2 linked regions of the Homo sapiens genome follow. The protein of the gene in region 2 purifies or fractionates together with the protein of the main gene of each other region. This does not show direct contact. Each region holds a gene or a part of one and is shown on either strand. Other genes may lie near its edges.

The links. Proteins that work in one complex are often made in the same cells at the same time.
Region 1: the proteins of TRO (region 2) and NBEAL2 purify together in Homo sapiens (tandem affinity purification; one large-scale study listed by IntAct). This does not show direct contact.

Annotation. Positions count from the first base shown.
Region 1 is NC_000003.12:46,982,666-46,987,116, reverse strand, and holds part of NBEAL2 (neurobeachin-like protein 2), read right to left. Parts: intron 1-4,451. UniProt on the Homo sapiens protein: Probably involved in thrombopoiesis. Plays a role in the development or secretion of alpha-granules, that contain several growth factors important for platelet biogenesis.
Region 2 is NC_000023.11:54,923,607-54,929,009, reverse strand, and holds part of TRO (trophinin), read right to left. Parts: coding exon 5,242-5,403; intron 4,560-5,241; coding exon 4,455-4,559; intron 4,341-4,454; coding exon 4,277-4,340; intron 4,022-4,276; coding exon 3,942-4,021; intron 3,419-3,941; coding exon 3,327-3,418; intron 2,601-3,326; coding exon 2,521-2,600; intron 2,428-2,520; coding exon 2,385-2,427; intron 1,968-2,384; coding exon 1,905-1,967; intron 1,706-1,904; exon of another isoform or gene 1,575-1,705; intron 1,344-1,574; coding exon 1,229-1,343; intron 408-1,228; coding exon 1-407. UniProt on the Homo sapiens protein: Could be involved with bystin and tastin in a cell adhesion molecule complex that mediates an initial attachment of the blastocyst to uterine epithelial cells at the time of the embryo implantation. Directly responsible for homophilic cell adhesion.

The DNA of each region.
Region 1 (4,451 bases), on a different chromosome or scaffold from region 2:
AGCCGTCCACCCTGTGATTGGGGAACTCCCTGGTACAGTTTAGTGCAGATCTGAAGCCCAGACAACTCAGAGAGGTGCCAGGGCCACCATGGTGCAGACCCACACAACCATGACATTTTGTCTGTCAGTTACATTTATTGACCTCTCCACCCTCTCCTGCTGGCAGCCTCCTCCCGAACAATCAGCAAGGAGCCCAAAATACCCAGATCCTGAGACAGCAGAGGTGGCCAGGGGCCCTGGACCATTTCTTCTGAACCTCTCCCATTGCAGATGGGGAAACAGGAGGCCCCACAGGGGATGCCTTATCTACTACTTTGTCTTCAGTGTACCTTTGAGGATGCTAAAAGCCAGACCTTAGTTCTAGGCCAGGACCACTCATGATTGCTAGCAAGCCAGCCCATGAGGACCATGCGGGCCCCGATCCTTGCCTCAGTGGCCCCACAGAGACCCCTAGCTGCCTTCAAAAATGTCCCAATACTGTCTTCCTCTCTTCTGCCCCTCAGTCAAGCTAGTCACTCAAAATGTGAGTCTTCCTGCCAGCTGCAGCTCTACTGAGCACCTGAAAGCCCAAATTTGACCGTGTCTAACCCCTCCCCATAAAGGCTCAACTGCTGAGCAGCATTCCAGGCTGCTGGTCCAACCAGAACCTGCTTCTCCAGCTTCCACCTCTCCCCCTCTGTGGTTCACATCCTCCTATCCAGGCCTTTTCCCACCCTATGCCCCACTGCCTTGTGTGACTTGGGCTTTTGGTACTTGAGCAGGAACCTCCCACCCTCCTGGTGGCCATCACCTTGATCAGCCTTCCCAGCACAGGGGTGGGTCCCTCAATCTCTACATACTCCTAGAGTATGTAGATAGTACTTTCTGTCCCTAGAACCACACCCTTGGCCTGTCCAGTCCTGTAAACTTTCAGCAGATTGGGCTGAGCTGGGTTCAGGGCTGGGACAATCAAGACAGCCTTCAGGGGCTCTGAAAGGGGATGACGAGGTCTCCAAAGCACAGTATTAGGCAGGGGTGGGGTGGCTGCCTGTCCTGCCTCCCTGGGTCTCACTGTTTCTCCCTGGAAGACCTCAGGCCAACTCTGACCTAGGCCCCATGGCTTGAGACTGCAATGTGTCGGGGTACGGGAGTCCCTCAGGGAGCCAGGGTCAGAGGGCAGAGAATGGCAGGGGACGAGAGCATGGTGGCAGTGCTGCATGTGAGGGTCCAGGGCCTGGGAGGAGTGGCCATGATGCTCAGGCTTCCCATGCCCCTCTCAGAGCTTCTGCCTTGGTCGGTTGTGCCAGCTCTGAGCAGGAACACGGGTCAGGGACAGTCCAGCCCCTTGCCCCAACCTAACTGGGTCAGGGCCCCAACCCTGTCCCCCACTGAAGGCAGGTCGGGAGCAGCCACACCTGCCAAGCCCTCTCCAGGGTCCATAGGTAAGTGATGCCCAGGTCCTGCAGCAGGGGAGAAGGTTGTGGGAATGTGGAAGGCCGGTGTCCCTGGGAAGAGGGGGTCTCATGTGCACCACCACAGAGACCCCAACTTATGCCCAACTAGCTGTGAGGGCACTTGAGAGTGCTGGGGGTGAGGGGCTCCCGAGGGCTGCTTAGGCTCAAACAGTCCCTGGGTGGGCATGGAACTGCCACTCCTCTGGAATTCTGAAGTAACCTGGAGGGCTGAGGGCTGGTGGTTGTGACATTGGTGGGGAGTACAGGGAGTACACCTTGTTTGCCAAGCTGACAGGGATCATTGAGCTGCCTGACACCATGCTGCTCCCAGACCCTGCCTGACGTACCCCAAGGCCATTGCACAATGGGCCTCGAGTAGACATCTGTCACCATCACGGCTTGATCAGCCAGTCACATGCCCTATCACAAGCTCACATCTGAGGCCCTGTAGGGTGGTGCCCACCTCACCTGCAGCCTCCATACCCCAAACCCGCTGGATGCCTGGGCCCAAGGGCGTGAATCACTGTCTCTACCCCCACAGGTCTGCCTGTGCTTTGCTCTTGTTTGCTCTGCTGGAATGCCCCCATCAGGGGCATCAGCACCCTTTGTAAGACCCATTCCTGTCTGGTGCCTCTCACCAACCGAATCAGGTGAGGGCATGGGTTCCGGAGTCCAGTCCCCGTTCTAACTCTCAGTAGCTTGTTACTTAACATTAACCTCTTTAAAACCATCCCTTTGCTTCTTGGGTAAAAGTTCTCCAGCCACACCTACCCAACTCGAGGTCAGGGTAAGGTGAGTGGAGTTCCAGATCCAGGGGCTCTGGCCTGCCCGAGCTCCCTGAATTCCAGGCAACAACCCCCAGCCCCCTCTGTGAGTGACAGTAAGAGGCATTAATGGACCCCAGGGAAGAGCTAGGAGCAGGAAGGGAGAGAAGAGCACAGCTCAAGAGTGGGTGACTCCTCTCAGTCAGAGCTGCCTGGGCGGTAGTGAGCACTCCATCTTCAGGGACAGACAAGCAGAAGTGGGACAGGGTGGTGTTTATGTGGAATAGCCTATCCCAGGCCTAGGGGGTCCCCCCATTCAGTATCAGGACGGGGAGGACAATGTCAAGCTAAACGTGACTTCTGGCTACATCACCAGGACTGGAGGTCAGGCTTGGAGGATGTTAGGCCATGGGATGAAGCAGGAAGATGGGACTTTGCTGGGGCAGGGACAACTGAGGATAGTGGTTTGAGTGCCTGGGTGGCTGGGCCAGTCTCTCCCACTTACCTGGAGAGGGGGTGCTGAAAGGGTGGACCTTCTGATCTCCATGACACCCACCCTGCCCCAGGGCCTGACCATCCCCTTGTACTATTGTTTTTTTTGTTTTTTTTTGAGACGGAGTCTCGCTCTGTCGCCGGCCCAGGCTGGAGTGCAGTGGCGCGATCTCAACTCACTGCAAGCTCCGCCTCCCAGGTTCACACCATTCTCCTGCCTCAGCCTCCTGAGTAGCTGGGACTACAGGCACTCGCCATCACGCCTGGCTAATTTTTTTTTTTTTTTTTTTTAGTAGAGATGGGGTTTCACTGTGTTAGCCAGGATGGTCTTGATCTCCTGACCTCGTGATCTGCCCGCCTCAGCCTCCCAAAGTGCTGGGATTACAGGCGTGAAACACCGCGCCTGGACACTATTTTTTTTTAAGCAAGGAAAGCATAGATTTATTGAAATGAAAGTACACTCCACAGAATGGAAGTAGGTTCAAGCAAGCGGCTCAAGAGCTGACCAATCCCTTTTACTATCACTAAGGAAAATGGGAATTTCCTTCTAGGGTCCCCATAGACCCCATGGTAACTGACCCTGTTTCTACGGGGACCCCACACTTCCCCATCAGCTCCCCAGTTGTCATAACAACTCCAGGAATCACCAGTGCCCACCCAAGCCTGGGCTGTGTGCTCATCTCCCTATCACTACAGGCCCTTCTCCTTCAGGTGCCTTGGTAATAGAGGCAGGGGACCAAGCACCAAAGAAGTGACTCCACCTTCCCTTTACCCATTTCAGGAAGGTAAACTGAAGCCCAAAAAGGATATGACCAGATAAAGCCAGGTGCGGTGGCTCACGCTTGTAATCCCAGCACTTTGGGAGGCTGAGGCGGGCAGATCACAAGGTCAGGAGTTTGAGAGCAGCCTAGCCAACATAGTGAAACCCCGTCTCTACTAAAAATACAAAAATTAGCCGGGTGTGGTGGCACACGCCTGTAGTCTGAGCTACTCGGGAGGCTGAGGTAGGAGAACTGCTTGAACCCGGGAGGCAGAGGTTGCAGTGAACTGAGACCATGCCATTGCACTCCAGCCTGGGTGACAGAGTGAGACTCTGTCTAAAAAAAAAAAAAAAAAGGAATATGACCAGGTAAAGTACCGGGGGAGTGGAGGGCCTGACCAGGTTTCTGAGAGGCAGTAGAGATCATCAGTTAGGGAGAGGGAACTCTCAGGGAAGTGTAGGCAGGACGAGGTTGCCTCCAGCCTGACCTAACCTCCCTGAACCCTTCTGAGGCCTCAGTGGCATAGCTGGACAGGTCAGCTTCTGCTCCCTCCTGTCACCTGAGGGTTTGTTCTGCCCTGAACTTTGTGACCCTGAGTGCCCTTCCACATTCAGTGCCCCCTCACTCTGTGACCCCATTCACTGGAGGGGTTGCTGAACATCACTGCTGCTCCGGCCTGAACAGGGGCCACTCATCTGCATGCTATGTGGCATTAACTTTTATGGGCTGCCCAACCGCCAGCCTGTCAGGTGCTGTCCCCAGTCCCCCAAGACTCTCCTGCCCTTCCTATGCCTACCCTGGGGGAGCTCTGGTGGGCTCTGAGTCCTCTAGATGAGCCCCCACCTGTCCACCAGGCCTGCTTGACTAGCTCTGCCCTGCCCCAACTCCTGACAATTTGCTTCTTGTCCCACTGCTCCTGCTGTTTCTTCCTCTCAGCCTTCAAAGCCCAAACTCAGCCTCCTCTGGGGTGACTTCCTGACTGGTCACTGCCATGGGACCCA
Region 2 (5,403 bases):
GCAACACCAAAGGTAATGCCAGGTCCACCACTGAAGCCACCACTGGAGCTGGGTGCACCATTGAAGCTAATACTAGCACCATCGCTGAAGCCAGCCCTGGTACTAGCTCCTCTGCTGAAGTTGACGTTGGTGCTGGCATCTGCATTTTCTTGGGCTCTGGCCTCAATTTCAAATGAAAATCTGCTCCAGGCCTGAGCATCATCGCCTAACTCTTCCCTTGTTAGGCAGTCGATATCCATGTCATCCCAATTCCAGGGCCCAGCCACAGCTTCCTCTCCAATCCCCATTTGGGCTCTTGCCTCAGCCCTGGCTTCAGCCTCAGCCACAGCCACAGCTGCAGCTTGGACTTCCATCTCCACTGCCTCGCGGTACTGCACAGCCCAGTCCTTGGGGTCTTTCTTCTGCACCTGAAATGGGGATGATAATCATAATAAGAAAACAACCCTAGTAATCATGTATTAACCTACGGGCTTTGTATTAAACTAGTAGCAATACTTTTTTAAACTTCTCAGTTATTGGGGCTCTATCATGGGTCAGTTCTGAACTCCAGTTTCAGCTCTGCTGACTTACGTGCTATATGACCTTGGACAAGTTACTTAACCTCACTTAGCCTAAGTGTCTTTATAATTACAGGAAATGATAGAGCGTAAATATGTTATGAACTGAAGGGTTGTGCCCGCCCCCAAATTCGTATGTTGAATCCCTAACACCCAGTGTGATTGTACTTGGAGATAGGGCCTTTATGGAGATAATTAAGGTTAAATGAGGCCATAAGGGTGGGGTCCTGATCAACAGGATTAGTGTCCTTATAAGAAGAGACACCAGAAAGCTTGCTCTCTTCTCTCTCACACACAAAGCCATGTGAGGACACAGCAAGAAGGCAGCCATCTGCAAGCCAGGAAGAGAGCCTTCAACAGGAACTGACCCTCGTGGACCCTGACCTAGGATTCTCGCCCTCAAGAACTATGAGAAAATAAATTTGTTTTTTAATCCACCCAGTCTATGGTATTTTGTTATGGCAGCCCATGCTGATTAATACAAAGTATGAAGAATGAATGAGATGATGTAAACTATATATCTAGCAGCACCCTGGGACATAAAGGAGGCTCCACATGTTTATATATGAGCTGCAGGCTGCTCTGTACCTGCCCATCCCTGTGCATTGCCTGCCCCAGCCAAGGGTATCCCATTGCCTTAATATGCCAAGCTCGGGCAGCTCTCCTCTTACCCTGCATGCAAACTTGAGGACTTTCATCTTGCTAGTCTCGTGGTAGGAGCGCAAGCCCCAGAAGAACTCATATTCAGGTGGTCTGCTGTTAGGGACCCTCTTGTACTCCAGGTACCTTGGAAAAAGGAAATGAAACTTGTTTCTAACCAAGCAACCCTGCTGTCTAAGCACTAGACACCAGGTGGCAACCTCCTCCAAACAAATACAAACAGCCCCTGGAGAGGGATTTCTAAGACCCTCCAGCCCCAGACTCACTACCAAACACAGTTTATGGTCTTGGCCTCCAATACTGAGCCATTTCCCACTGGCCCTGTGCAAAGCAGTCCCTTGGGCTTCTCCAGGGGAGACATGTATAGGGCATGATGTCACAGGAAGGCCAAAGTATCATGCCACCTGTGAGGAGTAAGCCCAGATTCCTGTTGGGTGTGTTGTAAACAGAGGAGCCATTCTTAAGGCCCTCTGCTCTGAGCGCACCCCACTGCAAGGGCCTTGTGTTGAGTCTGGCCCAGTCCTGGAAAGGTCTGCCCATGGGAATTTTAGACAGTATCAGTTCTAGGACACAGGATGCCCATCCCTCTAAAGCTAGTATAAGAAAGGCACTGACTAAGCACTTTCTGAACCAGATCAGTATACCCAGAACACTTCAGGGCCAGACAAAGCCCCAAACACCACTTACTTCTGCTTCACAAACTCGTCTGTGATGAGCTTCCTCACTTCCCCAAAGAGTGAATGCCTCACCCTGACAATGGGAAAAATAACCCATGAACACAGATCAGAACTGCCCAGATGAGGGCAGAGGCATTTCCCAACATGGAAGAGACCTCTCTAGCACATGGGGCAGTCTCAATGAAGTGAAGAAAGTAATGAGCACATGGCCACTAGAAGCAAGCAGTTAAGACCAGATGCCTCTTTGTCAGGGATCCCTGAAGGTCTATCTAACATCTCAGCTTAGAACAGACAGAGGACATTAAGGAGAGAGACAGCAGAGAGTTCAGGACCATTTGCCCGTCATCCACCCAGGTCAGAACCCTGGGCCCTCTACCCAGTCCAGCACCCCACCCGCTCCACCAGACCACCAGACTGATGCAATCCTAGGACCATCCTCTCTTGCCAAAGGACAACACGGACAGCAAGCGCTGAGAGAGCCCAGTCATACCCAGGGCGCAGCCCCAACTTGCGCAGCACCTCCCAGATGACAGCTGTGAGGGGAGGCAAGAGGAGACAGGGACAGAAATTGAACACATGGAATCCAGACCATGGCCGCCCATTCAGCTGCATGCCCAGCCACTCACCCTCACTGGCCTTGTTGCCATTCATAAAAATGACACTCAGAATCACCATGAGGAGACCCAGCTTGGGTGTGTCCTTGGTCCTAAGGGAATAACAGGACAGAAAGAAGGTTTATGTTTCAACAGGACAGAAAGAAGGTTTATGTTTCAGCAGCCATCCGCAAAAGATACACCAGCCAGCTCACCAGGCTAACCTCTCCCAGATTCCTCAGATACAGAATTCTGCCCAGTCTCTGCTTCCAGCTCTATGCCACCCTGGGCAAGGCACTTAGACCTTGCAAGCCTTGGTCTATTATTCAGTAAAATGGGAAAATCATATTCTCCCTTCCTCAGGTTGCCAAGAAGATGGAAGAATGGCTGTCAACCTGGTACAACACAAGCACTCAGTCAATGTGAGTCCCTTCTTTCTCTCCCAGAACCTTCAGCCCCACTGACACTCTTGCGCTTCATGCATACTGATCCAGCCACACCAGGAAGCCCTCCTTGAGAACCACTCTGTCAAAGCCAGGCCAGGCACTCCATCGGAAGAGGCAAGCAATGACAGGCCTGCTTTCCTGGGAAGCTTCTACAGAGACAGCAAACCTGACAGCAGGAATGTCCCACCCTAGGCTCCTATACCCTTCAGTCAATCATAATCAGGTGCCACTACTGTGAGCAGGGCTCCAACTATGTGCAGGTGCTGAGACAGGGCTTTTGAGACCCTGTTTTTCCTGACTCTCTAAGAGGATGGGGGAAGTAGGACAAAGAAGGGGTAGCAGCACAGATAAAAGCAGAAGCTTCCTTCCCACTCCAGCCCTTTCCCAGCTTACGTTCCCAGTATGCCTGCAGAGGATTCCTGAGTGCTGATGAGAATATACAAGCTACTTTGCTTATCAATTTCTTTCAGATTGACTCGAAACATCTGCCAAGTAAAAGAATAGCCTGTGAGATCACAAAATTCAGCTTAGGTATCAGTGAACTTTCCGGGCATCCTAAAACTCCCAGTGTACTTAGGGGGTCTGCATGTGTAAGAAGTCAGTGAGATAATGCACATAAAGCACATAGCCAAGTGCCTGGCACCCAGTAAACACACAGCAAATGTACTATTGTCATCAACATCATCTTTGTGATGAGCAGGAATCTAGGGAGACAGAAAATGGGGATACAAGGGAGAGGTGAGATCTGAAATACATGCAGAATATGTCCAACTATGAATAGAAGCTGAGACTAATTTGAGTGGCTTCTGTCCTAGCCATGTTTTCATCACTGACATGCTGTGTGACCCATGGCAAATCTACACCTCTCCCTAGGCCACTGTCTGCCCATTCACACAGTAATGGGGCTGGATTAGCATGTTTCTGTGATTCTCTCCAAAAGGGACATGTATGTCTTTGCTCGATTCAAAGCTTCCCCATTGCGCCCATCCGCCAGCACTGCCCCTTCACCTTCTCCAGAGTGTAGCTTGCTCGTTCAATGATTTCTGGGAAATATTCATCATATTCTTGGATGACATCCCTCAGCATGTCTGTAGAAAAGGAGAGGTGAGAGTAGCTGAGCTTAGCAGGGGCCACAGAGCTGCAGCCCTTTTGCCAGTCCTGTTGGGTCAGTGCAATCAGAGACCTGAAGTGAGTTAATGGGAGATGCCAGCCATGGCAGAGTGCAAGGAGGGCAGGTGTGGAGATATGACAGAACAAAGAGGCCATAAAGTGTTACTCCCAGACTATGGGAGGAGAGGGGAGTGGAGAGGAGAGCTCAAGGAGGAGGGTTGGTAGGACACTACCTGAGCGTTTGATGGGGATCTTTGTCTGGTCCTTAACCAACAGGTATTTCACCAACTTATTAGCCTGGGAGGAGAGGAATAGATGGAGAGATCTTAACATGCTTGCAGAAAACTTGGAAGGAGGCAGAGAAGAGGGCAAGTGAAGAAGAGAAGAGACTGGACAGCATTGGATTCTTACCCTTTCTTGTAAAATGGCCACATCTCGCGGTGGTGCAGGCCTCCGGCCCCATGGGATCCGCCTGTAATTACTGCCACTTCTCTCATCCCCATTCAGATGCTTGGACTTCATCATCAGAAAGAAGGAAGGTCCAGAGTCACCAGGTGAAAGAGATGGCTCTGTCTCCTCACCTTGCCTGCTCCAGACAGAAAGTCCCTCTAACCCCCTCCCTCAGCCTTGCTGTAGTGGAGCCTGATCCTGACCTTGCCATTGGCCACCCTGAGTCCTGAGCTTATCTTTCACTGTCTTCCAGGAAGGAGTTTCGTTCCTCTGCCAGGCCAGGAACAACTCAAGATAAGAGCCTAAGGGTCTTTCTCTTCCTCTGGCTACCACCAATTATGCTGGCTGGTACCTCTTGGACAAGTCACTTCATTTCTCTGAGACTCAGTTTTCTTAAGTGTAAAACTGGGACCTATGATCCCTTGTTGGTAAGAGTTACTTTCAAGACATTCAGACATACCCTGTGTAACTGTACCCAACACAAAGCCTGGCACGTGGTAACTACTATTTAAATACAAGTAGTATTACATACAGGTTGTAGCTGAGTGTATGGATGTCTTATTTCCTCACCAATCTGTGAACTGCTAGGGAGCAGAAACTATATCACCTTCTTCTCAGCATCTTCCACAGCCTATCTGAACACAGGGACTAGCTCAAAGTAAAACTTTTATAGAAGAAATGAACAAACTAGAAGGGTAGAAATGGAAAAGAAGCACAAAGTTAAGGATGGCAATGTCAGAGATCTCACCTTTCGGTTTCTTTTGCCCCGGGTCCTGGTTGTGGGCTCCAGGCTCAACTGAGCCAGATAGTCATCTGCCAGGGCCTGGACAGCAGCAGCAACCTGAGTCTCAAGGGCACTTACGTTGGTCTGAGCAGAGGCTATCTTGGCCTGGGCCCCTTGGTCAGCATT